7 linked regions of the Homo sapiens genome follow. The protein of the gene in region 6 purifies or fractionates together with the protein of the main gene of each other region. This does not show direct contact. Each region holds a gene or a part of one and is shown on either strand. Other genes may lie near its edges.

What was found.
Region 1: the proteins of CD6 (region 6) and RBPJ purify together in Homo sapiens (affinity purification with mass spectrometry; one large-scale study listed by BioGRID and IntAct). This does not show direct contact.
Region 2: the proteins of CD6 (region 6) and VANGL2 purify together in Homo sapiens (affinity purification with mass spectrometry; one large-scale study listed by BioGRID and IntAct). This does not show direct contact.
Region 3: the proteins of CD6 (region 6) and LANCL2 purify together in Homo sapiens (affinity purification with mass spectrometry; one large-scale study listed by BioGRID and IntAct). This does not show direct contact.
Region 4: the proteins of CD6 (region 6) and FRMD5 purify together in Homo sapiens (affinity purification with mass spectrometry; one large-scale study listed by BioGRID and IntAct). This does not show direct contact.
Region 5: the proteins of CD6 (region 6) and DDX47 purify together in Homo sapiens (affinity purification with mass spectrometry; one large-scale study listed by BioGRID and IntAct). This does not show direct contact.
Region 7: the proteins of CD6 (region 6) and TBCCD1 purify together in Homo sapiens (affinity purification with mass spectrometry; one large-scale study listed by BioGRID and IntAct). This does not show direct contact.

Annotation. Positions count from the first base shown.
Region 1 is NC_000004.12:26,429,014-26,432,218, forward strand, and holds part of RBPJ (recombining binding protein suppressor of hairless), read left to right. Parts: intron 1-884; coding exon 885-1,040; intron 1,041-1,405; coding exon 1,406-1,509; intron 1,510-1,678; coding exon 1,679-1,994; 3' UTR 1,995-3,205. UniProt on the Homo sapiens protein: Transcriptional regulator that plays a central role in Notch signaling, a signaling pathway involved in cell-cell communication that regulates a broad spectrum of cell-fate determinations.
Region 2 is NC_000001.11:160,421,064-160,424,563, reverse strand, and holds part of VANGL2 (vang-like protein 2), read right to left. Parts: coding exon 3,377-3,500; intron 513-3,376; coding exon 281-512; intron 1-280. UniProt on the Homo sapiens protein: Involved in the control of early morphogenesis and patterning of both axial midline structures and the development of neural plate. Plays a role in the regulation of planar cell polarity, particularly in the orientation of stereociliary bundles in the cochlea.
Region 3 is NC_000007.14:55,396,337-55,399,836, reverse strand, and holds part of LANCL2 (lanC-like protein 2), read right to left. Parts: intron 1,415-3,500; coding exon 1,207-1,414; intron 1-1,206. UniProt on the Homo sapiens protein: Necessary for abscisic acid (ABA) binding on the cell membrane and activation of the ABA signaling pathway in granulocytes.
Region 4 is NC_000015.10:43,873,772-43,877,271, forward strand, and holds part of FRMD5 (FERM domain-containing protein 5), read right to left. Parts: exon of another isoform or gene 2,035-3,500; intron 692-2,034; coding exon 114-691; 3' UTR 1-113. UniProt on the Homo sapiens protein: May be involved in regulation of cell migration. May regulate cell-matrix interactions via its interaction with ITGB5 and modifying ITGB5 cytoplasmic tail interactions such as with FERMT2 and TLN1.
Region 5 is NC_000012.12:12,826,846-12,830,345, reverse strand, and holds the end of DDX47 (probable ATP-dependent RNA helicase DDX47), read right to left. Parts: intron 3,101-3,500; coding exon 2,971-3,100; intron 924-2,970; coding exon 792-923; 3' UTR 365-791; downstream 1-364. UniProt on the Homo sapiens protein: Required for efficient ribosome biogenesis. May have a role in mRNA splicing. Involved in apoptosis.
Region 6 is NC_000011.10:61,016,680-61,020,877, reverse strand, and holds the end of CD6 (T-cell differentiation antigen CD6 isoform 1 precursor), read right to left. Parts: intron 3,400-4,198; coding exon 3,328-3,399; intron 3,120-3,327; coding exon 2,865-3,119; intron 2,590-2,864; coding exon 2,485-2,589; intron 1,625-2,484; coding exon 1,560-1,624; 3' UTR 501-1,559; downstream 1-500.
Region 7 is NC_000003.12:186,560,840-186,564,339, reverse strand, and holds part of TBCCD1 (TBCC domain-containing protein 1), read left to right. Parts: 5' UTR 1-10; coding exon 11-346; intron 347-3,500. UniProt on the Homo sapiens protein: Plays a role in the regulation of centrosome and Golgi apparatus positioning, with consequences on cell shape and cell migration.

The sequences.
Region 1 (3,205 bases), on a different chromosome or scaffold from region 6:
AATCCTCAGACATGCAAGCAATCCTTCCTCAAGGAAGAACTCAAAATTATGAAAATGTTCTCAGAGAAAACAGTTAACATCTAGTTCCAGGGTTCTTAATTGAAGAACAAAGAGCCCCTCAGGATATCCAAAAATAGATTTTCAGTGCTCATTGAATCCTCTGAAATTGTGTGCAAACATTGTATAGACAAAGCATTTTTCTGGGTGAAGGCTCAAAATCTCATCAGATTTATGTCGTGGTTTCCGAAGATAGTAATGATGACATGCTTTGAAAGCTAATGTTTTACATTTACTCAGAAGGCTTTCATGAGGTTATGACATGGGCAGATGATTTAATAAGACAGTTATGGTTTCATGTGAAACTCCTTTGCAGAGAGATGCCCATACACACTGATGGGCATGCTGAGTCCCTGGTCTAGGTGTGTTAAGGTAGGGGTAGGGGCTTTGCCTTCCCATCTTGATTCCCTCCCATGGAACATGCATAAGCTTCTAGCTGTTGCCTAAGCATGAGGAGTCCCATTGTCTTTCTTAGGAGTCCTTGAAGAGTTTTAAACAGCCATTTACATCACAGATATTGATCTGCTGTTAATGAAATTGTACCTGCATTGGTATACTCATAATGGTTGTTCTGAAAGGTATTATTATTTAATATGTCACTGAAATAGTTTGTATTATAAGAAAAACTGCTGTCTATGGGGTTTCTGTATTAGCATTCTGTTTGTGTTTATGTAGGGATTGGCAAAGCACCATACTTTAGAAAGTTTATAAGTTTTTACTGAGTTATCTTCTTATTAACTCTTGTCTGAGGGTTACTTGGTAAAATTTTCTTATCCTATTAATACAAACTGTATAAAACTTAGTTTCTAAACTTCTTTCTTTATTAGGCCACTCCATGTCCAAAAGAACCAAATAAAGAGATGATAAATGATGGCGCTTCCTGGACAATCATTAGCACAGATAAGGCAGAGTATACATTTTATGAGGGAATGGGCCCTGTCCTTGCCCCAGTCACTCCTGTGCCTGTGGTAGAGAGCCTTCAGGTGAGAACGCCTAGTCCAAGTTGGCCTTCAGCTCTTTGCAGCTACTCTCAGCTGTGACCTGGCATCATTTCATTTCATGGGAGTTTTGATTTTTCTCCAATCGTCTGATTAGGGGATTTTTATATACACCATTTGTTGATTTAAAGAAAAAAAAACAAAATTAGGAGGAGCGTACTTGCCAGAAAATTTAAATGTAAATAAACTTGTATGTTATCTTGAAATGTTTTTAGCTAGCTTTGTAATAAAAAACATTTTAATTGCCCTTTTTTAAAAAAAACAAATGAAAGTTGAATGAGAATCTAATTTGTGTACTTTAATGAAAAATGAAAAGTTTTCTCAGTGTTGTGATTTTCTGTGAATTGCAGTTGAATGGCGGTGGGGACGTAGCAATGCTTGAACTTACAGGACAGAATTTCACTCCAAATTTACGAGTGTGGTTTGGGGATGTAGAAGCTGAAACTATGTACAGGTACTTGATAAAACTTTTTGCATCATCCAGAGGTTGTGAGGGGTGTGGGTACAGGAGATTCTTTCCTGGCACTGATTGTAATGTATTAAACAACCTTGTGTTAAGTCTCATTTTTAACATGTACTTTGCTTTTTAAAGTGTTTTTAAGTGATTTCTATTTCCTCCTCAGGTGTGGAGAGAGTATGCTCTGTGTCGTCCCAGACATTTCTGCATTCCGAGAAGGTTGGAGATGGGTCCGGCAACCAGTCCAGGTTCCAGTAACTTTGGTCCGAAATGATGGAATCATTTATTCCACCAGCCTTACCTTTACCTACACACCAGAACCAGGGCCGCGGCCACATTGCAGTGCAGCAGGAGCAATCCTTCGAGCCAATTCAAGCCAGGTGCCCCCTAACGAATCAAACACAAACAGCGAGGGAAGTTACACAAACGCCAGCACAAATTCAACCAGTGTCACATCATCTACAGCCACAGTGGTATCCTAACTACCGTCTTTTTGCTAGGACTTAAACTGACTTGAGTGTGGCAAAAAGTTAACAAAAAAGGAGAAAAAATGAACAATCGTTTGTGGTTTCTTGGGAAAACTTTTCATACCAGGTGATACTATTCAAAAACCCCGTTGTCTCCCTGCAAGTGCTGATTTGAAATGCAGAAGCCACAGTAAAAAAAAAAAAAAAAAAAAAAAAAAAGAAAAAAAAATCAAAATGTATAAATATTGGAAATCAAGTTTTTCAGCTGTTTTGTTGGTTGGTTGGTTGGTTTTTGTTTGGTTTTGTTTAAATGGGCAAGAAGTAAATAATGTGGCTGGAATACAAGTTGAACAAACTAGAAGACACAAATCTAACATAGTTTTTATGGACCAAGGAACTTGTATATTGTATAAGCTTTAGTAAAAGGTACATTTTCACCATACCTTTTTTTATATCACGGTATTATAGTACACCTTGTTACCAAATAGGTTGTTCTCTTCCCCACCCACCTTTGAGCTTTTGCTCTAAAATACATTCAGGTTCCAAGCCTGACCATCCTTGTTTAATCTATCATACTCTTCCAGGTTTTTTTTTTTTGGTCTAAGGCTGGAACTTTTTTCTTTTTTTTCAGCTGAAGTCTTATGACTTTTCATGAGTCAAAATTGTTTGGATTTCAGCAAGTCAAATCTTGCAAAGGCCTGCATATTTTTTTTAAGATTATATGAAGTCTGTGCAAAAGCTTTAAAAAAATGCCTCTGCCTTGCCTGCAATACATGCAATGTATGTTAACTTAGTCTCTCTTCTCAGACACTGTTGGTAGTTATTTCTGTGTTTTCCTTTTTTTAAAAAAAAATATGGACTTATTGTGGTTATCTGAGAGGTTCTAACATTCACATGCAATTTGGTGTGGCCATTTAGCTATTAATGAGTTAATGGCGCAGAACTTGTTGATATTTGAAGTGTTCTCTCCCCTTTTCCCATGACGTAAATACATAGGTGTGTTCCAGGATTTGTTCAGGTTTTTCCCCCCTCCTAATCTTGTACATAACTTGTATTATGTGTAAGTTAAACATTTTATTTTGAACTTGGAATGTTCCCAGTGATTTCATTCAGCAGGGTATTTTCTGCCTTGTTGGCAAGTGACAAAAAATATGGGAAGTATTTGCTACCAGTTGGTAGATGGTGCCCTTAATGGTAGAATGAGGAAAATGTCCGCAAAAGCATGT
Region 2 (3,500 bases), on a different chromosome or scaffold from region 6:
ATCTGGTAATTCCGGAGCCCTCATAGAGATGAGAAATAAGTCTCAGCCATCCCCAAAATGGTCCTGAGGACTCCCTTCTCCTCATCTACCTAAAGACTTCACCCCACACAGATGGGGCAGGTGGAATAGGAATGAGAGAGAAGATTATAAAAAGGAGGTGGTGAGGAGAGAGAAATGAGGTGGACAGTGAGGAAAGTAGTGAGAGAATAAGGGAAAATGAAGGTGGGAAAGAAGAGGAGCTGGGGAAGGAGGAAGGATGCTGGCAGCAGGGCAGGCCTACCTTGGGCGTCATGTCATGCGTGATGCAGAATTCAAGGTGCTGCAGGATGCTCTCCATGGTGTGGTAGGGCTGCTGCTTGGTGGTCCGAAGGTACTTCTGCATGGCACGGGCCATGGATGCAAAGATGGCTTGGGCTGCCTCCCGGGGGTCCATCACCTCCCTGGGGTTTTTCTGCTCCTCTTCCTGCAGCCGCTTAATGTGAGTGAAGGCCTCCTCCACCGCCACTACAAGCCTAGGGGACAGGAGGGGACTGGGCCAGATGCCCACCTCTCTTTCCCCCACCCCACCCCTCTCCCCTAGCTCCAACACTCCAGCAGCCTGAATGAGGTCAGGCCTTTGTGCTCACCCAAAGTAATACAAAGCCAGAGGCAATAGTGCCTTTCTGCCACTGGGAACAGTAAACAGCCACAGAGTTCAGTGGGCCCAGCCCAGGGACTCAGAGGGCAAACCTAGTGTCAAACCCAGAGAGACAACTAGGAACTATGCTATAGGAAAGACAAAGCATTCCACCAAACTTTAAGGAAAACCTTCTTAAATAAGACCCCCAAATCATACTTCATTGGCTCAACAATTAATAGATATGATTACATCAAAATGACAGATTTCTGTTCAACCATGACAGCATGGGCAACATTAACTGACATCTGATGGAGCTGGGGAAAATATACACATCTAAAACCAACAAGGGATTCAGATCTAGAACATGCAAAGAATTTGCTACAATTTCTATCAAGAAGAAAAAGACAGGAAACCTAGAGAAAAAAGGGCAAAGGAGGTGAACAGAAAATTCACAAGAGGACTGAAAGGCTAAAAGATATACGAAGTAGTTACTGGCTAGCAATTAGAGAGATGCAAATGAAAATGTTAGTAAAATATTACTTTTCCATCAAAATGGAAAAAAGAAAGAAGGTAACTATAAACCAAATATTGGATAGGATGTTGGGAGTATTCCATGAACTACTATGCAGCAAAAAGATGCAACAAACTAGATGTACAGACAACTTGGATGAATCTCAAAAACACAGTGTTAAGGAGGAAGCAGGAAAAAAAAATCCATTTACATTAAAAGCATATAGATGGCCGGGTGTGGTGGCTCATGCCTATAATCCCAGCACTTTGGGAGGGTGAGACAGGTGGATCACCTGAGGTCAGGAGTTCAAGACCAGCCTGGCCAACATGGCAAAACCCCATCTTTACTAAAAATACAAAAATTAGCTGGGCATGCTGGTGTGCATCTGTAATCCCAGCTACTGGGGAGGCTGAGGCAGGAAAATTACTTGAACCCAGGAGGCGGAGGTTGCAGTGAGCTGAGATCATGCCACTGCACTCCAGCCTGGGGGACAGAGCAAGACTCCATCTCAATAAAAAAAAAAAAAAAAGCATACATACAGACACACACACCAACACCAACAAAGATCACTACACTAACACTAACTTTGCACAAGGATACATATAGCTTTTAAGGAAGTCAAACACACTCAACAGGATGCCTAAAATGTGGCGCTGGAGTGAAAGTGGGAACTGGAGGAAAAGAAGAAACAGAATAAAGAACCATGAAAAACTCTATAATGACAATATGTTAGAAGCTGAAAAGAGCAATTAATGCAATTATCTGCACTTCAAGTCCAAAAACCAAAATAAAAGCCCCCTGGCCTAAGAGCAGGACCAGCCTGAAGTGACAGGACAAAGAAAGAAAGTGAGGCCTTCTATGCAGAACCCAGGAACCTGAGTCATTTCAGATGGGACTCTGGGTATATAGGTGTGGATCTGTGTATGTCTATCATTTCTTCCTTTATTCTCTTGCTTCCCCTACATTTCTCAGTAAATTCCCTTTGAAAAGATCCTTTTATCTCAGGTAAACAAAGGAAAAAGTTTGCTCCTGGTTAAAAGCAAGGTAATGGGGAAAGGAAAGAGTCCTCTATGTGCCAAAAATGGTGGTGGCAGTACAGGAGATTGGATGACCCTGGTCAGGGCAGAAGATAAAGGGGTAGGGACATCACTGGTTTCCTTCCCAAGTCTCAGGCCATTTCCAAGACAATTAGAGACAGGTTGGAATGCCACAGAAATGGAGTTGGTGATCTTTGTTCTACTACAGGGGATGCCAGCCTCAAATAGGAACAAGGTAAGGGCTACCTCTTGCCCTTGAAGCCTGGAGTTCATGTGGGAGATGGGGCGGAGGCCAGGTGCGTGGTCAAGTCCTGAGGCACTCTGCTCCTCCCTCAGGGAACTCCCGACAGACCAAGATGGAACCCGGCAGAGTAGGCACCAAGTAAGATTCTTCAGGGTTGACTAAATTCACTTAATAATATGAATAGGGAAAGGGAGAAGCTAGGATGGCATTTAAGAATTTACCAAAATATAGGCAATAAAACGTCATTTTTTGAAGGCAACAAAAGCACCATCTGGTGAGTCCTCTCAAGATCTACTGGCAGGCAGGCTAGTCTAGCCTGAGTCCATGCTGTTGCAGGTAAAGCTCACATCCCTTTATTGGGTCCCTACCCCACTGTGGCAGGCAGAATTCAAAGATACCCTCCACTTCTACCAGACTCCCATCCCCTCATTAGACAACAATCTTGGTACATTTTGCAGATGTAATTAATGTGCCAAGTCAGTGGCCTTAAAAGAAGACTGTCCTTTAGGGCCTGATCTCATCACATGAGCTCTTTAAAATCAGCATTATCTCCAGCTGGTGGCAGAGGTCAGAGACCTGTTTCTGCTGGAAAAAAAAGTGCACTACCATCATGTAAACTGCCTATGGGGCTATGTGACAAGGCACTGAATTCTCCCCATAATAATGAGCTTGAAAGAGAAAGCATAGGCTCAGATGAGAGTCCTCTTGATTTCAGCCTGTGAGGCCTGAGCACAGCCTCCAGCCAGCCTGCACCTGACCCATGGAACTGGGAGATAATAAATGTGTGCTGTTTCACAGCTGCTAAGTTTATGGTAATCTGTTAGGGCAGCAACGGAAAACAAGCACACACCCCCAACTCATGTCATCATTGCCCTATATTTCCAGCAGTTACAGAAGTTCCTTGGTCTTCCTCTCCCCATTCACCCAACAAGCACCTCCTCTCCTCTTCTCCCCCAGGGACCCACCTGGCCCTCCTCTTGCGCACCCTTCGCTCATGCTCAGCCTCCTCATAGTAGTACTCATTGTGACTGTTGTCCCGCCTCCGAGCTGCCGCTGCAATCACAGCCCGAGACTGGCCAGTGGAGTTGT
Region 3 (3,500 bases), on a different chromosome or scaffold from region 6:
TTAAAAATACTCCCAAATCCAGAACACAACAAAAACGTCTCCAGTTTACTAGTCCCCTTTTGAATGTCAAAATTAAAAACAAAACATCTTTCTGTTAATTTCTACCTTTACATCTATTTTAAACCATAAAATTTTATTTTGAAATCCAGAAGTAAAAGAAAGTGATTTAAAATTTAAATAAAAATGGTACTGCAGGCCGGGCACGGTGGCTCACGCCTATAATCCCAGCACTTTGGGAGGCCGAGGTAGGTGGATCACCTGAGGTCAGGAGTTCAAGACCAGCCTGACCAACATGGTGAAACCCCGTCTCTACTAAAAATGCAAAACTAGCTGGGTGTGGTGGCACATGCTTGTAATCCCAGCTACTTTGGAGGCTGAGGCAGGAGAATCCCTTGAACCCAGGAGGCGGACGTTGCAGTGAGCTGAGATCGCGCCATTGCACTCCAGCCTGGGCAACAAGAGCGAAATTCCATCTCAGAAAAAAAAAAAAAAGGACTGCAATGTCACCAATGCTTGGGAATTAGACTGTCATTCTGTCTTTTTTTTTTTCTTTCTTTTTCTTTAGAGACAGGGTCTTGCTCTGTTGCCCTGGCTGGTGTGCAGTGACAGGATGATGGCTCACCGCAGCCTTGAACTCCTGAGCTCAAGTGATCCTCCTGCCTCAGCCTCCCAAGTTAATGGAACTACAAGCACATGCCACTATACCCAGCGTCATCCTATCTTTCAACAAACATTAACTGACTAGCACGTGCCAGATACTCTACCAGACCCTAGGAATGAACCGTGATTTCTGCTTCTTCAAGGAAGAACGTAAACCAATAGGTGCAATAAAAGCTTACATTCCCTAATTGTTCCATCATTAGCATATCTAATCAGTTACTTAAGGGTTGAACCTAACATCAGTTTAGTTATTATGGTGAATCTAAAGCAGGTAAGCTAATTTTCATGCATTGAAGAAAACAAAAAATTGCTTAGGAAACATGGTTAAAATAAGGAAATATATTTATTCTTCCCAAAATTAAGGCACACACATGCTTGGATAAAAAGAGGGCATATGATCCCACCACTATGCTCAAGATTAACATTTTGGAGTGATCTGTTTACAACAATGGATGAATGGAAAAATAGTTTCCTTTCTGAATATCTTTCTACAGCAAGAGCTTCCACTGGGAATTGGGAGAAAATGTTTCCAGTTCTAAAACTCACTTTGTGACACATTCCTGGGACTCACAGTCACTTCTGAGTTTGTGATAAATCACAGCTCCAACAGCCAGGGGGCCAGCATCCCCACAGAGGAAGGTGACCCTGCGGCCATTCAGATTCCGAAGTGTTCTTTTTACGTAATCCAGGGATCGGAGCAGGTAGGTTTGGTCACATGTGACCCGGTACAACTGCAGGTACAAAAGGGCTATGCCTGGAATAATTTCCCACCCCAAAAGAAAAGCATTATTATCTTTTCCTTTTATCTTCAGGACATTATTTATAATTACATGAAATACCTTCTTCTACATAAATCTATGTTTCCAAACGGGTAACACCAAAACAATACATTTCATATATTTCTTAAAAATGAATAAACAAAATAAAACCAAGACAGAGAAATCAGGGAGGAAAGAACAGAAACCATGTTTGTACATGTTATCTTGGTGCTTGTCCTGGCACAGTGATTTAATACCTCTTATTCACAGACAACAGAAGATACATCACTTCCTACTCATCCTCAGTTAATTTTCATTCATTCCAAGGTTGTATTCATTCTCCCTTGTAGATCCTAACTTGGATCTTCTTCTTTTTACTTATTGTAAAATCATTTCTCCTATGTTATCCCAAATGATTGCTTTTCTGAACTTTATACTCCCTTCTTCCTATTTTTTTTTCTATTTTTCCCAATTTTTCAATGTTCTTTAGTGAACAACCCTACAACTGACCAATGAACTGGTGAGTGAACTCGCCATTTCTGGAGCAGCCACACAGTACAGAGTAAGGTGATCAGTACAAAGGGCGTGTGTGGTTCACCACCCACCAACCTTTCCATTCTAGATAAAGAACAGACTCAGGTCTTCAAATGAATCTGAGAATCTCCAAAGAAGGGCCTATATGGCTTCTTAAAGAAGCATGTCCTTACATCTGGGTTCGAGAAGACAATATGACAGCTAAGTAAAAAAAAAAAAAAAAAAAAAGAATCAGTATAAATATGTATTTACTGAAGTCTTTTATAGGAACCAACATTGACAGAGATGACATGCTGGTGAAAAGGGCAAATGAAATATTTCTTTCATGTTTAAGTTGAGGTTCTTCAATATTCTAGTCTTTGTCTAATAATATCCTACTCTGCTTTTACTATTTTTCATTTTGCTTTTTTTTTTTTTTTTTTTTGAGACAGAGTCTTGCTCTGTTGCCCAGGCTGGAGTGCAGCAGCACGATCTCGGCTCACTGCAACCTCTGCCTCCCGGGTTCAAGTGATTCTCCTGCCTCAGCCTCCTGAGTAGCTGGGATTACAGGCACATGCCACCATGCCTGGCTATTTTTTGTATTTTCAGTAGAGACGGGTTTTCACCATGTTGGTCAGGCTGGTCTTGAACTCCTGACTTCGTGATCCGCCCACCTTGGCCTCCCAAAGTGCTGGGATTAACAGGCGTGAACCACTGCACCCAGCCTCATTTTGCTTTTTAAATTTCTCCAAATATCTAGCTTCTTCTTTCTTCAATTTTTCTATTCAGGGTATATAACTTCTCTTTCAAATTAATCCTTAACACTTTTTGAAGTCTTTCATCATTATCCATTTCTTTAAAGATGTTGAGTCAAACGGATATGAAAGTAGAATATTTGGAAGCTCTGAAAAAAAAATTCTTCAGCATGAGTTGCTTATCATCTCCCTGAGAGCATGTTTTCTGTATTCAAAAAATATAAGCATACAGGAAACAGACAGTAAAAGTTAAATACTTACAAATTTCAAACATAATAATCACTATAAAGGCTTACAAATGAGTATTCCCTGATTTACTCAGAAATCTCTAAAAATAGGATGTTGATCTGATTAACCTATGAACCTAAAAACTTACAGTTATATATACTTAATGCTTCAGTATTTTAAAGCAAATGGTAAAAGGTAAAGTAAAAAAAAAAAGGTCATCATGCTTTGTCGTTTTTTGTTGGCAGGCGGACACGTTGCACTAGGTAAAAGGAGCTGGAATGAACAGGCCCTTAGGGATGTGGTGGGAGGTGCTGGGGAGCACGCGCCTGTGAGCAGGCTCAACCTTCTGGCCAGCCTGTGCCTTTGGACTGTGAACTGCACCAGTGCCTCCCATCCCCACGCCCTCAGTTGGCCAGGATGGCCAGCAGAAGCTGCAGCTGATCATCTCCCTTCCCCAATGCTGAAAGCTAGAACCAGCTGGAGCTAGGCATCTCCCTTGCTCCGGGTAGGCGGGGCTGCGATAAACCCTTTGCAGGAGAGGCTCCGGTGAAGCAATTTCTCCAGAGGGCAGGGCTTGTCAAGAACT
Region 4 (3,500 bases), on a different chromosome or scaffold from region 6:
GAGAGGAGGACTTGGTATATGTGCCGATGGTTCCGCGATGGGTCCCATTGCTGGGAATGGGTAGCCGGGTTCCTTGGTCCACCTGGCTAGTTTTTGGGAGGAGTCATGCCTTCTCAGGTGTCAATGAGCAGGCTCACCACTGAGCGGATTTTGCAGGCAAACCATCGCCTGAGGGGACAAAAGTATTGATAGTGGAATTGTTCAAACTCGGGGGTCTGGCGGATATCACGGAAAAAGGCAATGTCAAGGTCAGACTCGGTAAGGATGATCAGGAGGAGGAGCAAAACAAAGAGGAGTCCCATGGTCACAAGGAGCAAACGGAGGACACTTAGAACAAACTTATTCACCTGTTCCTCCTCGGGCCCGCTGTGCCCCTGACACAGGGCCCTCAGCTCTCCCCCAAGGGCCTCCACCTCTGTAGCAGTTGGGGTGCTGGCTTCAGATTCCTTCTCCTCCTCAATGCTGCAGGTGGCTCCATTGATCTGCCGGGAAAGCAACATCAGCTCCAGGCTGTGCTCAGCCACAGGGGTGGGCAGCACGCTGTCTGCAGGGCTGTAGGCCTCGTCTGCAATCACAGCTACTCGCTCATTGCTATCTGTCCGGCTGCTTCTCACGTGAGGCAGGAAGGTGTCCCCATGGGAAGTGGAACGCACTGGTGTGGAATGGGCACTGTCCCGTAAGGACTCTAGGCCTAGAAAGGCAAAAGGAACATGAGTAGGCTGTGTCCCAATGCACCCTTTGCTTTCCAGTAGCACCCATTGTGTTTTATTGGGTACCATTCTGCACACCCACATGACCAGCAGCAGTAGCCACTGCACTCTATTTTGATATATCGAGAAGACGACAGGCCGGGTATGGTGGCTTACACCTGTCATCTCAGCACTTTGGGAGGCCGAGATGGGTGGATCGCTTGAGGTCAGGAGTTCCAGACCAGCCTGGCCAACGTGGTGAAACCCCATCTCAACTAAAAATACAAAAATCAGCCGGGCCTGGTGGCACATGCCTGTAATCCCAGTTACTTGGTGGGCTGAGGCAGGAGAATCGCTTGAACCCGGGAGGCGGAGGTTGCAGTGAGCTGAGATCGCACTATTACACTCCATCCTCGGCAACAGAGTGAGTAAGATTCCATCTTAAAAAAAAGAAAAAGGCTGGGCGTGGTGCCTCATGCCTGTAATCCCAGCACTTTGGGAGGCCAAGGCGGGCGGATCATGAGGTAAGGAGTTCGAGACCAGCCTGGCCAACATGGTGAAACCCCGTCTGTACTAAAAATACAAAAATCAGCCACGTGTGGTGGCGGGCATCTGTAATCCCAGCTACTCAGGAGGGGAGGCAGGAGAACTGCTTGAACTTGGGAGGCAGAGGTTATAGTTAGCAGAGATCGTGCCACTGCACTCCAGCCTGGGTGACAGAGCAAGACTCTGCCTCGGGGCGAGGAGGAAGCCAGGTGTGGTAGTGCATGCCTGTTGTCCCAGCTACTTTGTAGGGGGGCAGATTGCTTGAGCCTGGGAGGTCAAAGCTGCAGTAAACCAAGATCACACCACTGCATTCCAACCTGAGCAACAGAGAAAGACTGTCTCAAAAAAAAAAAAAAAATATATATATATATATATATATATATATATGTATGTATGAAACAAGAGAAGGCACAGAAATCACAGTGGCCATTTTAGAAGAGTTTTTCTTTGCTTTTTGCTTACGGTTTTGGCCTAGTTTGTGTGTGTTTTGAGATGGAGTCTTACTCTGTCGCCCAGGTTGGAATGCAGTGGTGCAATCTCAGCTCACTACAACTTCTGCCTCCCGGGTTCCAGCGATTCTTGTGTCTCAGCCTTCTGAGTAGCTGGGAATACAGGTGTCTGCCACCACACCCAGCTAATTTTTTTATTTTGAGTAGAGACGGGGTTTTGCCATTTTGGCCAGGCTGGTCTAGAACTCCTGGCCTCCCAAAGTGCTGGGATTATAGGTGTGAGCCACCGCACCCAGCCCCTAATTTGTTAAAGATTCTGCCTTTCTTGCCTTTGGTGTCCTGGGCCTAGTTTTTTTTTTTTTTTTTTTTTTTCTTTCAGTCTTTCATATGATTTTATTTTCTTCCTTCAACCATAATAATATGATATCCAAATTTTGTCTTAACTGCTGGGTCTGTAAACACAGGCTTATCCATCACACTTATAGGCAAGGCAAATGCTGCTTCTTGAAATGGTCCCACCATGGACCCTCTGGTCATCCAACCCAAGACGCCCCCTTGCCTGGCTTTATCTTCACTATATTGTGTGGCCACTTCATTGAATCTCATCCCAGACTTTAACTTTTCCATGGCTTCCATGATTTTGCCATGTTTTTCCCATAGAATGTGTCTGACCTTTACTGCATTGCCACCACCTTTGGGACCTTGAGCCTTCTTGTCAGCACTGTCACTCCCAGAGGCTGCACCCCCTTTCCCCGCTTTTCCAGAACCACTTTTTCCTTTGGGCGGCATCTTGGAAGCTTGTTGTTGAACTCTGAACTCTGGGCCTGGTTTTTACCCCAGTTTGAAAGAATCTGAATTCCAAACTACCCCTGATGCAGAGCTGGGACCACGGTTTGAGTCTCAAGTCTGCCTGTTGGGTGGAGGGCTTTAAGAGGCAGGAATGGGCCAGACACGATGGCTCCCATCTGTAATCCCAGCACTTTGGGAGGCCAAGGCAGGTGGATCACTTGAGCCAAAGGGTTCAAGACCAGGCTGGGCAACATAGACACTGTAACTATAAAATTTTTAATAAAAGAGAGGTAGGAATGGGGAGAAGGGGAATATGTCATGCCTAACTGGGTTTCATCAAATACCGAATATCCTTGTAAAAACCCAGCATACAGCATCTTGAGCTTATAAGGTCAATATTTTTGGATTTCTGCAGCTGCTCTCAGTCTCTTCAGCCTCCGTTCTAGCTGTTCTGACTTTGTGGAATGATGGGGTAGAAACTCTCTCTGCTCTTCTTGAGGGGGCATGGGAGTAGTCCCTGGCCAGCTCCCTCTCTTTTCCTCTGAGAAGGAGCTGGGTCTAGAATAGGCTGAAAAGCTCCCCTATCTTTAGACACTTCAGAGCACAAAACAGTTTGAGAAGATCTTGTTGCGGGGGTGGATTTCTCTTACATTTGGTAGGAGGAAGGGGTATTCTATCCCCTAAAACTACCCATTATCTCTTCTCTCTTCCCAAGGTTCTCACAGGACTCAAGCCCTGGCAGGGAAAACAGGAGCTGGTTACACTCTCAACTGAACAGCAGCCACCCAGGCCAGAGGCTTTGGGCATATAGTGAGTGAGCGCGGCCCCCATCACAGTGCTCCCAAGGAAATGGCTTCTTGTTTTAGGCTCAATGTCTGCATTTTCCACTCCTGGCCATCTTGGTGATGCTGGTGTGGTTCTCTCTGCCTTTGTGACCTATGACAAGAAAAGCCAGTCCCCTTCTGTTGCCCTGAAATAGTCCCTGACAATCCCAGACTGAACCAGATTCCCAGCTCAGTAAAGGTTT
Region 5 (3,500 bases), on a different chromosome or scaffold from region 6:
GGACTACAGGCGCCCGCCACCACGCCAGGCTAATGTTTTTTTTGTGTGTGTATTTTTAGTAGAGACAGGGTTTCACGGTGTTACCAAGGATGGTCTCAATCTCCTGACCTCCTGATCTGCCCATCTTGGCCTCCCAAAGTGCTGGGATTACAGGCGTGAGCCACCACACCCGGCTGGGGCTTCCCTTTCAAAGCCATCCATCATCTCGTTTCCTTGTTGATTTTTTTAAGTAATAAATATTTATCTTAATTAGGACAACCAATGAATTTGCCATGTAATCAACACTGTCAGGTTCTTACCTATTAACAAGATCTTACTTAAATCTATAAGGCCCTTTAACACCAAGGTCTTTAAGGAGTTAGAATCTTTTAAAAATAATATTTAAATTTATTGTTTCACATTAGTTTGAATAAAGCACAAGCCAAGATGGTTTAAATATCATTTGCAGATGTCCAAGCTTCTTTACAATTACAGGTCATGGGCATCATCAACCTAGTCCTTGACTTGCAGCTAAAAAAGGCAAAAGGTCTGTGTGAAGTGACAGAAGAGCACACCCTACTCATGTCATGAGCAAGGAATCAAAGTCGAAGAACAGTAACAGTCTTGACATCAGCACTGTAAGAATTACTCTGCAGTAAACTCCAACCCAGAATGGGGAAGAATACTGAATTAGCTGAGCACATTCTGGACACAATTCTGACCAATTTCAGTCTCATGATCTCTGTTGGAGCAGGTTTCATTCTCCAATTCTCTTTTACAGAACAGCAGAACTCGAGCCTTCATAAAAGTGATTAACGGCCTTTCCGCTTCTTCATTTTTCCTCCAGCCACCTTGTTCCTGACACCAATAGCACCCTCTGTGTCATCATTATCTCCAGCATCCTCTCGCGAGCGTTTCTTCTTTTCTCCATGCTCCCTTAACTCCTGCAAGAAAAAAAGAGAGGATGGGATTGAAAATGAATTACTGGCACTGAAGGTTACTCATTCTAGTCCCCTCTCCTTAAGATCAAGTATCAAGTAACTTGCTGATGCCTGACATTAGCAAAGGAACAAGACCCAACTCCAAATATACAAAGATGTTAACCTTATTAGTAATCAAAACGTGAACACTAAAGTAAGGTTTTATTTTCACATGGCAGATTGGCAAAGACTTAAGAGAAGGGTAATCCCCAGTATTGGCCAAGGTGTAGAAAAATTCACATATACTCTCATTTATAGTGCAATCTGCTATAGCTTTTCTTGGGGCGGGGGACAATTTGGCATTCTGTATGAATTCAAATTTTAACTGTGTATGTCCCTTGGCCCAACAAGTGTACTTCTAGGAATTTATTCTAAGGAAGTAAATATGCAAAGCTGTACAAAGTAGGGTGTTTAACACTGTACCAAAGTAGAAAGAAACTGGAAAAAAGCGTAAGCATCCATGAATGTAAGTATTTCATACACATGATGGAATTCTTTGTAGCCATTAAGAAACGATCACATGAATCTGTATTTGTTGAAACAGAAAAATGTTAATCCTATATAATTAGATAAAGTCTAATTATGGCTAAAGAAAGAAAAATAGCCAAATGTTATCAATGGTTTTCTGTGGGGAATGGTTTACCTTTTCACTTACTACTTTAATCCTTTCTGTATTTTTTGAATTTTTTTCCCAATGCACATGTAATACTTTTACAAACAAAAAAATCCCATGTGGACAGAATAAAAACCAAATGTGCACCTCAGCTACTCCAAAAACAAACTATGGGCAAAGTTTCTCCATCCCTCAGACCAGAACTCCAGAAAGCAGGCAGCACTTCCAATGGTTTTCCTCTAGAATCTTCTCATCACCACTATTACTGTTACTACTACTTACAGGGTGAGTATCCCTTATCTGAAATGCTTGGGACCAGCAGTGTTTCGGACTTCAGATTTTTTCTAATTCTAGAATATTTGCAGATACATATGAGCTATCTTGGGGATGGGGCTCAACTCTAAACACAAAATTCACTTGTTTCATATATACCTTATATATGAAGGTAATTTTACACAATATTTTTAATTGTCTGAAGGTAATTTTACATCATATTTTTAATATTTTTGTGCATTAAAAACATTTTGACTGTGTCTTGATAGCAACCTGTCACACGAGGTCAGGCATGGAATTTTCCACTTGCGGCAATCCTTTTCGCACTCAAAAAATTTTGGATTGCTGGGCACAATGGCTCAAGCCTGTAATCCCAGCACTTTGGGAGGCCGAGGCGGGGGGATTACCTGAGGTCAGAAGTTCGCCTGACCAAAATGGAGAAACCCCATCTCTACTAAAAATACAAAATTAGCTGGGCATGGTGGCACATGCCTGTAATCGGGAGGCTGAGGCAGGAGAATCGCTTGAACCCGGGAGGCGGAGGTTGTGGTGAGCCGAGATTGCACCATTCGCTCCAGCCTGGGCAACAAGAGCAAAACTCCATCTCAAAAAAAAAAAAAAAAAGAAAAAAGAAAAGTTTTGGATCTTGGTTTTGGATTTCAAATTTTTGGATTAGGTATGATCAACCCCTACTAGTAACTATGTAGTTTATATTGGCTTCTCTGGTGCTCATAAAACCCCATAAGGTATTCAGGCAAGTGTTATTCCCAATTTACAGGTGAGAAACTGATTCTGATTCTGAGAAATCAGGCAAATTTCCCAAGCTCACACAGTTCACAGCTGGATCTTCTGACCTCAAGTCTGATGAACTATCTCACCACGTGCGACACATGAACAGGTGCTGTGAATGTGTGAATGTCAGAATGAGGCCAAACCTTGATTCAACCATTTGGTTGTATGGTCTAATGCAAATTACCTACCATCTCTGCACCTTAGTTTGCTCGTCTTAAATTTGGAATAAAATAATACCCAGCTTCTGCAGTTTAGTATGAGGGTTAATATAATAAAGTGGCACACAGTTAACATTGTTTGCACAGACACTGGTGAGAAAAGAAAGATGCATACCATTCGGGCAAACCTTTGGGCTTCAGCGACGCGTTCTGTCAGCATCATAACCTCATCATCCTGTGTTGGAAAACCTGGTAGTTTCTTCCCAATTAAGTGTTCTATGCGCTGGAAGAGTTCCACATCATACCTGAGGAAGGAAAACTGCACAGCTCTGGTTGCCTGGTAACGCAAATGCCTGTCCATTCCCAAACTATTATTATATGATACAACGCAATAGGAACCATAGGTTTAAACAATATTGAACATATTATTTCTTTTCTAAATATGGGTTAAGTGCAATCTCTGTGCATAGCCCATTAGAAAATCACTCAAGGGAGGCCAGGCATGGTGGCTTGCACCTGTAATCCCAACGCTTTGGGAGGTCAAAGCAGGAGAATCACTTGAGACCAGGAGTTCCAGACCAGCCTGGACAACACAGTGAGATGCCATCTCTATAAAAAATTAAAAATTAGCCAACCGTGGTGGCATGTGCCTGTAATCCCAGCCATTCAGGAGACTGAGGTATGAGGACTACTTGAGCCCAGGAG
Region 6 (4,198 bases):
CCTGGACCATTCCCATGGAAGATGGTTCCTTATAGCATGTGCCTCTGACCCTCTGCCTGTGGCTTCTCCCGACACAGCGTGTGCCCAGCTCACTCACAGGCCGCTCGGTAGTGCTGGGGCTGGGGGTTAATGTCTCCTCAACCAATGACAGGCAGAGAGGGTGGGTCAATATCCCAGCTCCCTGCCCCCTTGGTGGGACAATTCTGAGGTGTGTCTCCCAGAGGTCCCCAGCACCATTGAGCTCTGGCTGCCCATAATAGCAACCTGTTCATGAACATTGTCTTCCTTCCTTCCCCCTCTTTCTTCCTCATTTTCTTACTGCTGCTCCCTGGGATTACTTCCCAAATAAAAGATTTGAGCTCAACTCTTTGTCTCATTTGTATCCAACATATGCCACACACACACACACACACACATGCACATACATGCCACACACACGTGCACACACACATGCAGCCTGGGTTCTATGAGGTTTAAGAAATTGTCATTCCACGCCCTGGTTTCATTCAGCAATTCAGTTTAATCTCAGGATACTCAGAGCAGGACAACAAAGCCTGGTCTGAGCCCATGGGCCTCTCTCTGGGGGCTGCACGGAGACGTTTGCAGCCCCGGGTGCAACACCACATAGTCACGCATCCCTCCCAGGAGCATCCTCATCAATTCAAGGAGACACATGGGGACTCGGGGCCTAGTGCAGCTTCTGAGCCCCTTCCTGGAAAACATCTCTATGCTCCTTGCCCCCATGGAGACTGGGCCCCTATCTCTGGGATCTGTGGTGGGGCTGGGCTGGGGCCCTCTTTGTAAACCATAGGAAACTCAGAATAAAGACCCATTGTCCAGGGACAGTCACTGCAGAACTGGTCTGTGCCCCTGGCGGACTTGGAGTGTCTCTGGGGCAGGACTGGCCTTGGGCCCCAGCTCCTTGGTTGGGGGTACACAGTCAACCTGTCATTGTCAGCTAGTTGTGCCCAGGAAGGCTATATTCCCTGCCCAAGTGCAGTTACCGCCCGGAGCAAAGCCTGGGACAGCTGGTGTGCTACCCTACCCCCCCAGCGCCCACCGATCAGTGACAACAGCTCAGCAGACCCTAGTATATGGGCCCTCCTGCAGCAGCACTGGCATGGGGGTCCAGTTCTGCCCCTCGCAGGACCTCTGGGCCCTGAAGTGTCAGAAACTCAGGCAATCAAAGCGCCGGACACTTGAGGTTTGGAAGGGGCCTCCAGAGTCATCCAGTCCAGCTCCCCAACTCCCCTCCACCAGCTGTCAAGAGGTAGCCCAGACTCTGCTTGTTCATCCCCGAGACAGAGGGCTCACACCTCTTGGAGGCAGCATCCTCCCTGGGGCTGCTATCTGGGGCCGGGGGAGGGCTGTGGCAGCAGGTTTGGCTTGATGGATGGAGACCGAGGGGTACAAGGTATAACGTTTCCTTCCATCTCTCCAAGGGAGGCCTCTCAGCTCCATGGGGAGGTGAGCTGGGAGGGTGGGAAAGGGGAAAGGGAGTAGGTAGAGCAGGAGGCCAGAGGGTCAGAGCCACCCCAGGAGCCTCGGCTGGCCCCGGCCTAGGCTGCGCTGATGTCATCGTAGTCATCGTTGTCGGTGGAGTCAGGCTGAGGGCTGGGGGACCCTGTGGGCAGAGAGGCCCAGATTAGTGGGAGACCCAGTCATTGCCCTGCTGCCCCACAGGACGGAGCTGAGTGGTTCTGGCTCCACATCACTATCCCCGTGGGATGCTGCATGAAGCCATCTGATCATCTTGCTTCCGGCCATGTCCCTGACTAGAACATCAGCACTGAGGGAATAGCCTCGTCTGTCTGGTTCAGGGCTATGGTCTCCACAATGGCACACTGCACGACACGGTGGACGATTGAATGTTGGAAGCCCCTCTGCTACCACAGTCTCCCCCAAGGAGCCAACCAGCTGCTTCTGCTTGAATGCCTCCACTGACAGGGAGCTCACTTCTTATCAAAGCAACCTGTTTGACTATTTCTCCATCCCGTCCACATCCATTTTCCCCACCTCTTCATATTCTTGTTGTGCTTGTGTTTGTTTTCTTGTAGAAAGAGGGTCTTGCTCTGACCCTGCAGGGGCATGATACACAGTGATACGATCATAGCTCACTGCAGCCTGGATCTCCTGGGCTCACACGATCCTCCCACCTCAGCCTCCTGAGGAGCTGGGACTATAGGCACGTGCTACCCTTGGCTAATATTTAGTTTTTAGTTTTGTAGAGACTGGTCTTGCTATGTTCCCGGGGCTAGTCGTAAATTCCTGGCCTCAAGCAATCCTCCTGCCTTGTGCTGGGATTACAGGCTTGAGCTACCATGCCTGGCCTTGCTTTGTTTTTTAAAAAGTTACTTTCCCTCTCTTCTTTTACCCTTCCTTTCTCCTTTTCCCCTTGAGCGAATGCATCCAATAGTTCCCCACTCATTTACTCCCCAGTCCCTCTCTGTCCCCCTCCCACATCCCTTCCCCAGATATTGGCACCTGGACAGCCAAACTGCTCCTCCGAAGGGGGCTGGGGTGGTGGCTGGAAGTTCTGGTACCACTCCCCGGATGAGGTGCTGGAGCTGTCATCAGCCGGGGGCCCTGCTGGAAACCCCCAGAACCAGTCACCCTCTGCCAGCACACAGCCACTTCTCAAGTTGCCAGAGCTGGGGGGCCCACGTGACTCACGAGAGCCAAGTCCCTAGCTTGGCAAATGACAAAGTGAAGGCCCAGAGATGGGAGATGTGTCCAAGGGCACACAGCGAATGGCTGCGGAACTGGGTAGAATCCTGACCTCAGCCTGACTCAGGGCTCCCAGCTTTATGCCTCCTCCAGCCAGGCTGGCTATGGGATGGGGGTTTGGGGGAGGCACAGCTTACCTGAAAAGGCTGGCTGGGTGCCGGCCAGCTCCAAGTTTGGGGGCTGCTCCAGGAAGGAACTCCTCTCTGAAGAAAACACCTGGGGGTTCCATGGAGGCAGCTTGCTTTTGGGACTATTGCAGTAATCCTCCCCTGAAGAGGTGCTCGACTCACTGTTGCTCCTCGGGTGATACTGAGGGCCCAGGGATGGCGGGTCTGTAATGCAGTGTCCAGGGTTGGCAGTTGGGATGTGGGAGGCATGCAACTCTTCAAGTCCTAAGGCAGGAAAGGGAGAATGGTGACGAAAGAAGCAGTGCAGCAAGAGGGCTTTAAGTCAGACTTCAGAAAGCACTTACTGCCTATAGGATTTGTGAAAGTCAGGAAAGACTCATTGAGGGAGGTTCCTGCTGGAAGGTCTCAAGCTGAGCTGAGCTACTCTCTGGAGGTGGGACTGCCATTCACACCCCTTCCCATCCTGACTCACCTTCCTCCAAGGGTGGCATCTGGAACCTGCTTTGCTGGACCTCCTCATCTGTGACCCGATGCCGCTGGGAATCTGCAAGCAGAGGCGGTGGTGGGGAGGGGTGAAGGCTCAACCTCATCATTTAGGAGCCTGGAGAAGAGGCTGGATTTCCCGGGGCCTGGGTAGGCTGAATAGGGTGGGAGGACAACTCCGGAGGCAGAGAGGGCTTAGCATTTCCCATCAAATTCCAGGTTCATATCCCAATCCAGCAGAGCCTTCGCCTTAATCTAGCCTGGGGACAGAAACTCTAGTGCCCTACAACCCCCCAGCCCCCAGCCCCAGCTGTCCCTCCTGCTACTTAGAGAGGTATCAAGAGTCTTGGTTCTGTCCTTGTGACCTGGCAGCTCTGGGCAGGAGAAGGACAGATGTTTGCTCCTTCAAGAAGCCTTCCTAGAGTGAAACCCAGATGGTCTGGAATCACTGCATCACAGGCTCTGTGGCACCTTCACGTTTCAGAATCAGAGATTTATAGAGTCTTGAGGATATGAGTGTCTGGGATCTTGGAGTCAGCTCTTTTGAACCGGGTACCACTGACTTTTAATTTCAATGTTATAGCACTGTGGACTCTCAGTCTTGCATCTTATATGCCTGGGCTCGGAATCTCAGGTTCGACAGACACTTCATCCCTGTGGCGCCCAAACACTGGTCCACAGGCCAGAAGAAGTGGAATCATCCGTGTCCCACCCCCAGAAGCCCTGGGTTAGCAGGCGGGGCAGGGACGGCTGTCTGTTCCCCAATATCCATTCTGGCTTTTATCTGGACACAGCTGCCCAGGACAGAGCCTTCGTTTCCCTGCCTCTCTTGCAGCTAGTGGGTTTTCGTTCTGGGTGCT
Region 7 (3,500 bases), on a different chromosome or scaffold from region 6:
TAGAGATAATATGGATCAGTCCAGAGTTCTCCTCTGGGTGAAAGCAGAACCCTTTATAGTGGGTGCCTTGCAGGTCCCCCCTCCATCCAAGTTTAGTCTTCACTATCTCAGGAAGATATCCACCTATGTGCAAATCCGGGCCACAGAAGGAGCTTACCCGCGCCTCTACTGGTCTACATGGAGGCACATCGCTTGTGGGAAGCTGCAGTTGGCCAAGGACCTGGCGTGGCTTTACTTCGAAATATTTGATAGTCTTTCAATGAAGACACCTGAGGAGCGCCTGGAATGGTCTGAGGTTCTGTCCAACTGCATGTCTGAGGAGGAAGTTGAAAAGCAGAGAAATCAGGTACGGATTGATATGTGTGTATACTTAATTACTTTTGGAAAGAAACCATTCTTTTTTAAATTAAAAAATGTTTTTGCTTATTACAATTTTTAGATAGAAACAGAGTTTCACTTTGTTGCCCAGGCTGGTCTTGAACTCCCGGCTTCAAGCAGTCTTCCTGCCTCGGCCTCCCAAAATGTTAGGATTACAGGCATGAGCCACCATGTCTGGCCCAATAAACCATTCTTAATTTTTGTATTAGCTGTAAAATTTTAGGTTTTAGGCTAATGGCCATTGTAATCTCAAGTTATCATTTGAGTTTTAGTAGTTCCAGTTTGGCAGTATTTCATGTATTCAATGAATTAGTCCTTACTTACCAGACCTTACTCACCTACTCCCAAAGCAGTAATGTTACAGAGACCCTGTTATTGAAAAAGGGAAATATTTTACTGACTTTAAAAAGATTTTGGGGTGAATGAGTGTTATGAACAACTGATATGTTACAGTCAGAGCACCTGACTATTTTAAAATGAACATCTGCTACATGATGGGATTCAAAGATGATTAGGATAGCATCTCAACCCTCATGGAGCTTATGGACTAGTAGAGGAAGCTGGTATTAAAAAAAGATGCTATTTAATAGTGTGATATGTATAATAAAAGAATACACAAAGTACAGAAATTGAATAAAGAATGATTTATTTCAGTGATAAGGAAAGACTTCACAGAGAAAGTATATTAATCAAGTAGGCTGATTATAGTAATAGACAACCCAGTATTTCAGTGGCTTAGAACAGTAACAGTTTATTTCTCATTCAGGCAGCAATCTAACACAGTTGCTCCTGGTTGGACAAATCTCTGGGCTGCTGTCATCCAAGCGATGACCAGGGATCCATGCTTCTATCACTTGGAGTCACTGTTAATCAGCTTTGTTAAAAGCTGATTTCATTCATTAAGAACAAACAAATGAAATTCCAGTGGCTTACAGGGGAAAAGGTTTATTTCTTGCCCATTTTACATGTGGGCTTCATTTTTGCTATGGCATTTGTCCAGGCTCCGTGTTTCCCCATTTAGGGACACAGGCTAAAGAAATAGCTTCTGTGTAGATCATTCCCATTCTTATAACAGAAGGGAAGATCAACAGAATGGAGGAAACTCATGATGTCTCTTTTTAAATTCTTATTTTATGTATACAGCTCAATCAGTTTGGGGATAAGTATATGCTGTGAAACCATCATGACCGTCAAGGACATAGACATACCCATCACCCCCCATAGGTTCCCCCTCCTCTTTTATGCTTGTTATTTTGTGTGTGTATCTGTTAAGAACACTTAACATAAGATCTACTGTCTTAGAGAATTTTAAGTATACAACATGTAATTGTTATCTCTAGGCGGTATGCTGTAGAGTAGATCTTCAGAACTTAATTTTCTTGCATAACGGAAACTTTGTAGCCTTTGACCATCAACCTCCCCATTTCCCCCTCCTCCTAGCCCTTGTCAGTCACCCTTCTGTCTGTTTTTATGAGTTTGACTATTTTAGATTCCACATATAAGTGAGATTACATAGCTTTGTCTTTCTGTGTCTGGCGTGTTTTACTTAGCATAATGTCCTCCAGGTCCATCCATGTTGTTGAAAATGGCAGGATTTCTCTCTCTTTCTGTTTTTAAGAGACAGGATCTCACTCTGTTGCCCAAGCTGGAGTACAGGGATGTAATCATAGCTCACTATAGCCTGGAATTTCTGGGCACAAGCAATCCTTCCACCTCAGCCTCCTGAGTGGTTAGGACTACAGGTGTGTGCTATCATGCCTGGCAAATTTTTGTATTTTTTTCATAGAGGTCAGGATCTCACTGTGTTGCCCAGGCTGGTCTTGAACTCTTGGCCTCAAGTGATCCTCCCACCTCAGCCTCCCAAAGTGTTGGGATTACAGGCATAAGCCACTGTACCCAACATGATTTCTTTCTTTTTTAAGGCCAAATGGTACTCCATTATATATGCATGCCAAGTTTTCTTTATCTAGTCATCCATCTGTGGACATTTAGGCTGCTTCCATATCTTGGCCATTATCAATAATGCTGCAATGAACATGGGAGTGCAGGTATTTGCAGGATCCTGATTTCAATTCCTTTGGATAAATACCCAGAAGTGGGATTGCTAGATCGTATGGTAGTTCTCTTTTTTATTTTTTGAGAAACCACTATACTATTTATTTATTTTTTTTTTGAGACGGAGTCTCGCTCTGTCGCCCAGGCTGGAGCGCGGTGGCGCGATCTCAGCTCATTGCAAGCTCCACCTCCCAGGTTCACACCATTCTCCTGCCTCAGCCTCCTGAGTAGCTGGGACTACAGGCACCCACCACCATGCCCGGCTAGTTTTGTGTATTTTTTAATAGAGATGGGGTTCACCATGTTAGCCAGGATGGTCTCAATCTCCTGACCTCATGATCCGCCTGCCTCGGCCTCCCAAAGTGCTGGGATTACAGGCGTGAGCCACCGCGCCCGGCCCTATTTTTTATAATGGCTGTACCAGTTTACATTCTCACTGACAGTGTACCAGGGTTCCCTTTTCTTCACATCCTTACTAATACTTGTTAATCTTTTGTTAACAAGTGTGAGGTGATATCTCATTGTGGTTTTGCTTTATATTTCTCTAATGAGTAGTGATGTTGAGCACCTTTTCGTATACCTGTTGGCCATTTGTATGTCTTCATTGGAGAAATGTCTATTCAGGTCCATAGTCCATTTTTTAATTAGGTTATTTGGTTTTTCTTGCTATTGAGCTGCAGGAGTTCATTATATATTTTCGATATTAACCCCTTACCAGATACATGGTTTACCTTTTCTTCTGTTGATTGTTTCCTTAGTTGTGCAGAAGCTTTTTAGTTTGATATAATTCAACTTATTTTTGCATTGGTTGCCTGTGCTTTTGGTGTCATATCCAAACAATCATTACCAAGACCAATGTCAAGGAGCTTTTTCCTTATTTTTCTCTAGGAGTTTTACCATTTCACCCCTTACATTTAAGTCTTTCCTCCATTTTGAGTTGATTGTGTATGGTATAAGCTATGGTCCCAATTTCATTCTTTTGCATTTGTAGATCCAGTTTTCTCAGCATCATTTATTGAAGAGACTATTCTGCGTTTTGTATTCTTGACACCCTTGTGGAAAATTAG